2 separate regions of the Homo sapiens genome follow, and region 1 is linked to region 2. The links come from fine-mapping of genetic effects on gene expression. Tissue or cell type: lymphoblastoid cells. Region 2 holds a variant in brackets; the other region holds the start of a gene. All regions are shown on one strand. Distances are between the middles of the regions.

Region 1 (5,000 bases), 720 kb after region 2:
TTAAAATCTCCGACTCCCAAACCTGACAGCCACATGCACTAATCTAAGGCACTGCATTCTTACGCACCTAATCTAGACAATCCCCAAATCTGTCACTCCACTCCTGACACCCCCACTCCCAGTAATTTGCCTTTCTGCAAGTTATTACTCTGATTCCCAAACTATACCCATTGAAGATCTTACCCTAATATATGTTACACTCAACACCAGCTGGGTTCAAATCAGACAGGCACCTCTGGTCCTTCAACAGGGCTCATCCATCCTTACCTGCCCACCATCTAGTTCTTCTCACGCTTTGGTGTCCTTCATTCCCCCATTCCCTTCCCAAACCACCCTCATTTCAATGTTCTTTCAAACCAGATCTGCCATCATCCAAATGATGAAGCCACTTCTTCATTTCCCTCACACTGAGCCCTTGTGCTCCAGTATCCTTCACTCCACAGACTCTCCCACCTGTGCCCTAAAATCCTAGCCCTCACTCAGTCTCATTCCATCAGTTTCCAGAACCCTCACTTCTCAGGTCCAAAGCACCAATTTATCTCCCAAACTTCAAGTTCAACTGCTGTAAATACAATCTTAACCCTGTAAGACAGCCCTCATTCCCAAATCACAACCAAATGCCAGTCTGGTCTACACCTTCCGCCATCAACAATTTTCAAATCTGTCACAATTAGGGTCTAGTCAGGCACCTTGATGCCCCTGACTGAATCTCCTCATTCCTTGTCATATTCCTGGTCACACCCACAAATCTATTACCATTCCTCGGATCCCAGATTTCAATTACTCTCATTCTCAAGGCCTTCTCATTCCAGTTGTATTTTGCATTCTCTCGGTTCAATTATAAAGATGGTAAAATCTGACACCCACCTGCCTCAACTCAAATCTTGGATGGGTCTCCAATTCAATTTTTACCTTCCTCCCCCCAAGCTTCTTAACTGGAAAATTCTGGCCTAATGACCCCCATCAAAACTGTACCCATCCCAGCCACACCCACCTAATTCTCACACCTCCACACGCCCTTCATTCCAGCTCACTCCTCAAGCAGCACACTTCATCTGTACCGCATTGCTGGCCACCACCAAATCTGCCAAGTGCCTATGCATCCCTCTGTTCCAGAGACATCCCTACCTCGGTCTCAATTTCTGGTAGTCCCTACCTATCCTGCCACCTATGTCTCCACTGTCCCTTCTGCCCAATTTCAATACTCCCGTGCCCCTTCTCCTCATCTGCCCAGATACAAGCACTGTGATTCCTCTCTCTGACCCCAACTATGACTTCCATTTCCTCCTCCAAATGCGTCATCCCCCTTCCCCGCTTAAAGCCTCCTCCTAGCTCCCCTCTCTAGACAAATCGCTGCCACTCCCCTCCCCCAATGCTGGCCCTATCTGTTCCCCTCCCCCCATACGCGTCACCCTGTCCCCTCCTCCTACCAAATCCGTCGTCGCCATCAAATCCAGAGCCCCCATCTCCGGTAAACCGATAGCATTCCCCTGCAAAAGTCTTTGCCTTCGCACTCTCCCACCAAATTAAATCACAATGCAACCCAAGACCTCCGTCTCCTCTGTCCACCCCCAGTCTGGTGTCCTTCTTTCCCTCCTAAATTTCTGGCCCTGGCGCCCACTTTGTCCCCACCCCAAGACGTTTTAAATCCATCTCTATCAAATCCAGAGCCTCCGTTCCCCTCTACCCCAATTATGTGCTCCTCATTCTCTAAACACTTTGCCTGGGCCCCCAACCTTCCTCCCCATCTCTTCACCCAAACTTCTTGCCCCTCCCCCAATTCTATTGCTTCTTCCCTCGCCCCAAATTCGCTCCCTTCCCTATCCCAAGTCCATCGTCCCCACTCCTTTATCTCCCAAATATGTTTTTCCAGCCCATCGCTCCCTCCTTGGCACTCCCCCAAATCGCTTGTTCCTTCCACCCTCTCCCGTATCTGTTATTACTCTAACCCCTTGGTCTCCTTTCTGTATCCTAAAACCCGTGACCCCTGCGTTCCCAACTCCCTCACGGCTTCCCTCCCATCCCACCCACTCGGCCCCCCAAACCCGCCGTCCCCACCCCTCTCCCCAAATCCGTCGCCATTGACTGCCCGCCCCAATCCTCCAAATCCTGGCCTGTCACCTTCACATCAGCCTCCCATCTCCCTACGGCGCCTCTGGTCCCCCACCTGGATGAGCAGCTTCACGTAGAGCAGGGGATGGCTGAGCGCCGTCACGCCCGCGCCCAGTGCCACGAAAAGAGCCTCAGTGGTCGGGGCGTTGTCCCCAGACCCCAGGCCCCCTGACCCGCCATCCATCCTGCGGGCCGAGGGCTGAGCCGCAGGCCGAGGGTGGCGAGGATGTGCGCGGTGCGCGGGCGGTGGATCGCGAGCTCGAGCCTCGACCCCCGCCGCCGCTCCGCCGCGAGCTCCGGCTCCAGCTCCGGCTCCCGCCATCCCCGCGGCACCGCCGCGAGCCCAGGGCGCCACTTCCGGGTCCGAAGCTCCCATGGCGCCCGGCGGCGAGGTCACTCCCCGTCACGTGACGGGGCCACGCCCCCTCACCGGCGTCAGGGGGCGGGGCCGGGGCGCACCACTCCAGGCCGCGGGGGAGCTCGGGAGCGTGGTGCGGCGGGTGGGACACGCCGGATGTGGCTCCCCGGCCGGTTGGAGGCCTAGCAGGACACTGGGCTGCGGGCCGGGGGTCAATGGTGGCGGGCAGCCGGGGCCCCGGGCTCGGGAGCTGTGGCGGCAGCCGCAGGCCGGGGCGCTCCCCCGGGATGCCCAGAGCACGCGGGGGCGGGGTTCGGCGCCTCTGGCTGCCAGACGTCCCCAATATGGTCTGAGGCGCTTCCAAGCCACCTCCCTGGCTTCGGGAGTTTTCTCTGCAGTTCTCTGCCCGCCCCTTTGCGGCCCAGATCCCAGTCGCCGCGGCCTGCGTGGAACTCTGCGCGAGCTGAATCTCCTGCTGCAGGACGAGCCCCGACCCCGAGCCCGATCCCCTCCGCGGTCCCAGCCTCTTTGTCCGATCGCATTTTCCATCTCCTCTGCCAGGAATGCTCTCCCAACCAGAGCAAATCCAGATGTCCCCTCGGCGACTGTGGGCACCCTCCCCAGCTGTGGAGCCTTCGCACGCCTTCCTCAGAGTCCGTGGTTGTAAAATTTGTTTTGCTCTAAAGTATTTGACTGTCTCCCTCACTAGATCCTGAGGGTTTTAGTGAGTGCCTCAGTGTGAGCACATGCAGGCACTGCTAGGCGCCTGTAGTTGATTCTTAGTTAATACAAGTGAATAATCACAACTAGACCTTAAATTGCAGGGACTATGTGACAGGCACTTTTTAAAATGCTTTATACGTGTTGATTTAAGTGTAATCGTCACAAGAACCCTGCGAGGAAGATAGGACAGCAAGTGCCCTGTTCCTGTTTGTAAACGTGCCCGACACTCTGCAACAACACCTACAACAGAACCGTGCTAGTTTTGGGGGTTCGCAATAAAAGTTTCTGTTTGAACGGATCCTAGAGTGTGCAGGGACACAGCAATGGAAGACCTGGTCCCTTTGTCTGTACTTAGTCTATAGCCAGTTCATTGTGAGAAATTTCTTTAGATCGACACCTGCCACTGTTAGTCCGGGTTTCCCAGTCTGTCCTTTCTAACTCCCTTCCTGCCTTACCCCCTAAAAAGCTACCTCCCCTCTTCCCACTCCTGATAATGAACACTATGTACTTTCCACGTTCAAAGCATGCCACACTCCCTCTCTCCCTCACCTTGGCCTCCCTAACCCAGGCTTGTCCTAGTGAAATCACTTGCAAAGCCTGCTAACCCTTTCAACTTGCTGTGTTTTCTCCATCAAACACAATTTTCATCAAACATCCCCCAGGAGCACCTTAAATGACTTCCTTTTGCCTAGGTTCTGATTTAGCTTTCTCAATAAGGACCTCAAAGTCAAGTTCCTAGTGCCACACTAACTCTCTACCCAGAAGAGGCGATAGGTTTTAGTTTGGGGGTGGGGGGTGGGGGTAGGGGAGGATGATTTACTTCCCCATCCTTCTGAAACTTCCTCACAGGAACCTTTTCCTTCTTTGGGCTTTTCGTCCCCATTTTTCTCCAACTGTCTGTTTTTCTTTCTGAACTTGGCTGTTCACCGTTGAGCCTTTTACTCTGCCTTACATGGTCACCTAACTTTGGGCCTATACTGTATTTGGCCCTTTCAAACTGTAGTTTCATGTGAAGCAGCAACTTTGTGTTGTCTTGCATTGTTTTGTATCTTCCACAACATCAGATATAGGACTATGCACATAGTACATGTTCAGTAAAGTATTTCTAAATGATCGAACAATTTCTCCAAGTGAAGAAATTGAAGGAAAAATAGATCAGCTAAACCAGTTAGACCCGTAGGGTACCAAGCAGAAGCAAATGTTAAACTGCACAATAGCTGTATTTCTACAACTCAGGGCTCACAGAGACTCCAAGAGGAAGAAAAAAAGAATCCTCACAATAAAAAATGTATGAGCCGCTCAAAGAAACGTGCCATCATGAGAGAGAATGGGCAAAACAGGAAGAACTTGAGATAATAGAACCATCTCAAAGAAAATTAAAAGGAAAGAAGTAGGTTTCAAATGAAGGCAAAGATAAATAATAGGAAGTACTAGTAAAAAGAACAGGAATTGTAAAGGAAAAAAAAAAACAGGTGTATTTGAAAAGGTGCCAAACAGAACATCTAGAAATGAAAAGTATACTCACTGAAATGATTGAATGAAAGAAAATCTTCCTCAGCAGTCAAGCTACTGAGCAACCTGGCAATAAACCTTTAGAGCTATAAAGGAGTTAGCTCTGGCCAGGCGCGGTGGCTCACACCTGTAATCTCAGCACTTTGGGAGGCCGAGGCGGGTGGATCACCTGAGGTCGAGACCAGCCTGGCCAACATGGTGAAACCCCGTCTCTACTAAAAATACAAAAATTAGCTGGGCATGGTGGCGCATGCCTGCAGTCCCAGCTACTCGGGAGGCTGAGGCAGGAGAATCA
Region 2 (5,260 bases):
GAGAAGTGACGTGATTAGGACTCTTATAAACACTCAATGGGAGTGGAAACTGGCACACCCACTCTAGAGAGCAATCGAGCAACTCCTTGCAGAGTTGCAGAAATGCCCATTGTATTAACCATGCTTTCTTATTTTGTGAATTTTTGATGTTCTGGCATTTGTGGCCTCACTGATGGGGGCAAGGCTGCCCCTCCCAGGGCTACCCCATTCTTAGAGATAGCAGAGGGCTGGGGTGGGTGGGGCAGCGGCGCCTCTCATATGTAAACTAGCCCATGCTCTGATCCACCCTCTCTATCTGGCTTTTACACTCCAAGAGGCAAAATCACCCAGAGCCAGGCACCAGTCAACTAGAGACCAACCCTATGACCCAGAGCCCGCCACCTTGATTTGAATCAGCCAGTCCTAAGCTGCTTCCCTGCCCCTAAGCTGCTTCCCCGCTTCCCTTCCCTTTCCCACGGAAAACACCGTAAAGGCTCTGGGCTGTGCTCTCCTTTCGTCCCTTCTGCCCCATGACCGAACCTGGAGCTTCCCCATGCAGTCCTGCATGGCAAGGAAATGTAAGTATGTGCAACAGAAATCTCTTCAATGACACTAGCCTCTCCATGTGGTAACTCAGTCACCTCCATCAACTGAAATCCTGTGGGTACCATTGATAAACCCACATTGTGACCTGAGAAATTCCTATGCAGGGCCAAGGAAGGATGTACACAAAAGGATTCACTGTGGCATTGCTGGTTACAGCAAAACACTAGAAACAACCCAAATGTCCATCAGGAAGAGAATGATACATGTTGTCCCATGGTCTCATAATGGGTCACCAGAAAGCAGGAAAATGGAAAAGACTGGAGCCAGGGATCATAACACCAAGTAAAAACAGCAATTTGCAAAATAAAGGCAATGTGTTTGTTTATGTGAAATTTTTAAAAAGATTTATAAAACGATAGTATATATTGTTTATGAAACATATTAATATACTGAAAGTATAAAAAACATGGAAGGGAAAGAGTCCCTTCAACCTGGAACACTCCCTCCCTGGTTCTCCTGGGAGGGGAAGTGAAAGGTGATATTGATTAGGAAACAGTTTGAGGAGGTTTCACCTTTACTTGTGACGTCTCATTGCTTTAAAACCAGGGAAATAGCTGAGCCAAATGTAGTAAAATGTTAAGATTTCTTCAGTCTGGCTGGTGGGTATATGAATGTTTGCTGCACTAGTTTGGGTACTTTATGCTAGAGCTCTTTCATTATAAGAAAAAAGATACTATTTAGACTGCATGAATAATCTCAAGGTCCTACAAAATAACAACAGCTCAGGAAGCCAGCAAGCTTCTCAACTGTGCCCATCTCAGCTGTGCCAAACTTTCTCCTCTCTCCTTACATTGTACCTTTAAAAATTCCTGACTTTTTGGAAACATTTAAACACTTCTACCCCCACCATGGATATGTCTACATGTTTGGTCAAGTATTCAAAAATTAAGTCACACACCTCAAAAGGCCAGTGCTACAGTGGAGGGCTGTTTAATTAGTTATCAGGACCAGGCATGGTGGCTCATGTCTGTAATCCGAGCATTTTGGGAAGCTGAGGGGGGCGGGTCACCTGAGGTCAGGAGTTTGTGACTAGCCTAGTCAACATGGTGAAACCCCATCTCTACTGAAAATACAAAAATTAGCTGGGCGTTTTGGCACATACCTGTAATCCCAGCTACTTGGGAGGCTGAGGCAGGAGAATGTCTTGAACCTGGGACGCGGTGGTTGCAATGAGCCGAGATAGTGCCATTGCACTCCATCCTGGGCAACAAAAGCGAAACTCTGTCTCAAAGAGAAAAAAGTTATCAGACCCCCACTGTATTTTTCAGGAGGGGTAGGGAAGAGAAAAAAAATCTACTTCTTGGCTTCTAACAAAAATAAGTTGGTAAACAATTTCTAAAAATATATACAAATTTTCAAATTAAGTTTTCAGAATTTTCATGAATCAGTTATTTTACCTACGATAACAAAGTATCTATACCTTAAAGTATTTCTTTTGTTTTTACTAAAAGCAAAGGGCATATTTCATTCATTCTTCTCAAAATAAGGGCTACATTTTACTAGAAATATTTAAGAGCTCTTGCACTGGCCATGAGGTTTTCAGCAGCAAATATCAAGGGAACAGTGACTAAAAACAAAGACATTGAGTTATCTGTCATCATAGGAAGCACACACACAAATGGTGTGGGGGTTGGTGCAGTCACACAAGAATCTCATCAAGGACCCAGGGTTTTTCTTGCTTTCTCTTATACGATTTTTGATGCCTTAGCCAGCCTTCAAATTTGCCCTTGATAATACCCACCCTCTGGTATTCACACTTTTCCTACATTTTACCAGGGCTGGTCTGTGTGACCAATAGAATATAGCTGAGATTACATCAGAGGTTAGGTTATAAAAAGGCTGCAGCTCCCATCTTGGGCTCACACACTCTCCTTCCCTCATTCTCTCTCTCACTCTCTTCATCTCTCACTGAAGAAAGTCAGCTGCCAAGAAAGTTGGCTCCCAATAGAGAGGCCCACTTGATGAGGCACTAAAGCTTTTGTCAACATTGACCAAGAACTGATACCCACTGGCAACCAGAAGGGTGAGTTTGGAAGTGGGTTCTTTAGCTCCAACGAGCCTTGAGATGACTGCACCCCTGGCTATCAGCCTGAATGCAACCTTGAGAGACAAGAGCGAGAACCACCTGCTAAGCCACTTGCAGTTTCCAGACCCTCAAAAATGGTGTGAGGTAATACATGCTTATTGTTTGAAAGTGCCATGTTTCAGGGTAAATCGTCATGAAGCAATGGGTAACCAATACACTCAGTGTGTCTGCCACGTTTCCCCTGATGGATGTAAAACAGTTGTCATAGATCCGCACACCATATGCTCCCAGGACAGTGTCTCTGTCAGGAAGAAAATGGGATGGGGCTACAGGGGTCTCCCTGTGTGCCTTTTACCTTTTATCAAGGAGGGAAATCTTTCCAAGAAGCAATCCAGCAGAGTCCCTGTTACTTCTCATTGTCCAGGGGGGTGGGGTCTG[A/T]TGATCACCGTGAGCTCATGATTCACCCTTAGCTGAAACCAAGGACCAGGCCTTTCAGCTGCTTTACAGGGAGGTGGGCAAGGAGTAAGTGGGCCGCAGATGGCTGCTGGTAGCCAGCAACAGTCTCTGCCAGCCTCCCACAGGCTCCATTTGTCTGATTGTTTGCACCTGGCATCCTTCATGCTCCATATTTACTGTAAGCTGGAAGTTAGGCCTCAATTAGATTCAGGTGACATCGTTTTGGCAAGAATAATCACGGGTGATGTTGTGACCTTCCTACTCTACCGAATCAAGAAACCACCAGGTTCTTCACTAAATTAACATTTTCAGGAGGTAAGCAAAGGGTGATACCCCATCAGGTAAAAGCCAGTCTGGAGTCTATGTGCATCTTTCTCCCCAGTATCCATCCTGGGTGGCTTCACATATCTTAAACTTATGGGAAGTCCAGTTTCCTCTAGAAATTCATTTTGGGTTGTCTTGTTGGAAGTGTGTGATAAGCAATCTGTTTCTCCCACGTGATTTCCTCAGGGATGGATGAGTCAGACAAGCAGTGTTAACTTAGTTAAAAAACACCTGCAAAGATCATGAGATGACTAAAAATCAAATACAGAGATGCTGGAAAGTGATTCTTCCTCGATGTCATTCGCTTGAAGTTCTTAGGGCGTGAGTAGAGGGTCAGGAACCAGGGCGAATGAAAGGAACCTTCTCAAGAGTTTAGCACCCAGCAGAGGACAGGCTGAGGCCTGCTGCTCACCAGCCCTTGTCAGCTGTGGAGACCAGTCTGCCAGGCTCAGCCTTTGGGGTCCAGGTTAGCAGCTCCTCCACGGCCTTGCTGGGTATAGTCACGGATTTCTGGCTGGCGTGTTTGCATGGAGGAGGCTGTGCGTCATTGCTGTCTCCACGTCCACAGGGAACAGAAACATATGTGCATTCGTGGAAGTCAGCCGGGTCCAAGCAGGTGGGGACAACGGGGGCCATGTCAGGATGCACTGTCTCTGAAGGGGTGGTGGGTCCCCAGCCCCCCAGGTGCCTGAAGCCCATGTACAGCAGGTGGCCTTGCTTTCTATTTCACTGGGATGACCCGGAAAAAGAAACTTATCCATAGCTGTCCTCCCCTCAACATGACCCCACACCCTCCTCCGCCTGCTTACCCTTCTCTGCTGCCTCAGTGGCAGGGATCTCTGTCCTTGGTTCTGGTGCCATCCCTGCCCCCCCCATGGATAGTGCCCATGTCTTGCTGTCATCTCAGATGCATCTTAAAGTAAAATCATCCTCCACCCAGCTTCCCCAGGTCTGTTCCAGTTTCCCCAACTCTGCAGGAGGCAGCCCCACTCCTCCCTACCCCCAGGCTAAAAGTGAGGCCTCAGCCTTGACTCACCCTGCCCATCCAACCAGTCCCTGGCCCTGAGAGTCTTCTGCAGCAATAACTTCATTAACTTGTCTTCCTGCAGCTGCCACCCTGGCCTGGCCACCATCATCCTAGGAGAATGGGCCACCATCCTCCTTCCTCATTCTCCAGCCCCAGTCTCATCTTCCTTCCAAGGCTCTGCATCTTGAGACCTCTCCAAGCTCCTCCTCATGTCGCATGTGGATCAAGCCTTCCCCTTTGGACCCTGCCTTTCTATTCCACCTTATCTCTGGGGTCTATCTGTTCCAGAAGCCTTGACTCTTACTACCCTCTGATAACCACAGACGTGCCGTGTGCCAGGCGTCCTACAGCCATTACCTTTAGCCTTTACAGCTACTGTGCAGCATAGGAATGACAGTATTGTCCCTTTCACAGATGAGGAAAACTGAGGCCCAGAGAGATCATGCACAGGTCACACTGCCTGTAAATAGCAGAGTTGGGATCCAATGTCATGACTCAGAAGGGTTCTCATCCAAAGCCCTTCATCCTGTGAAACAGGTCCCATTACACCCCTTCCCTTCTCTGCAAGGGGCTCTTGCTGCTCCTCGACCAGTGCCTGCCTGCTCCTCCCAGCTGCCTCCAGTCCCGCAGCCCACACCTCCGCCGCACAGCTCCTCAGATGTTCCAGCCCACACTGCTCAGCCCCGCCTCCTAACTTTTCTGGCAGGAATCTCAGCCCTGCACAGTTTAGTACTTAATTATAGATTGCCTTGTACAGTTTTCTGCTTATTTCACATTTGCCTGTCTTGTTCCCAAGAAGCCTGCAAATATCTGATTTGGGGATGGAGCTTCTGTGTGCTCCT

What was found. PIP is the estimated chance that this variant, and not a neighbour inherited with it, causes the effect.
Region 1: MTCH1 starts here. The variant in region 2 is fine-mapped to the expression of MTCH1 in lymphoblastoid cells (GTEx, PIP 0.90).

What each region holds. Positions count from the first base shown.
Region 1 is chr6:36,983,686-36,988,685 of GRCh38, forward strand. It overlaps MTCH1 (mitochondrial carrier 1), which reads right to left and starts at 2,511. Exons shown (of 12, transcript NM_001271641.2): 1 at 2,168-2,511. The coding sequence starts at 2,488. RefSeq lists enhancers at 2,065-2,787, 2,906-3,115 and a silencer at 2,226-2,815.
Region 2 is chr6:36,263,529-36,268,788 of GRCh38, forward strand. It overlaps a transcript of PNPLA1 not described here. Among named protein-coding and RNA genes, the nearest start is that of PNPLA1, 3.9 kb to the right of the region's middle. RefSeq lists an enhancer at 4,640-5,226. The variant A/T (reference allele first, on the strand shown) is at 3,050.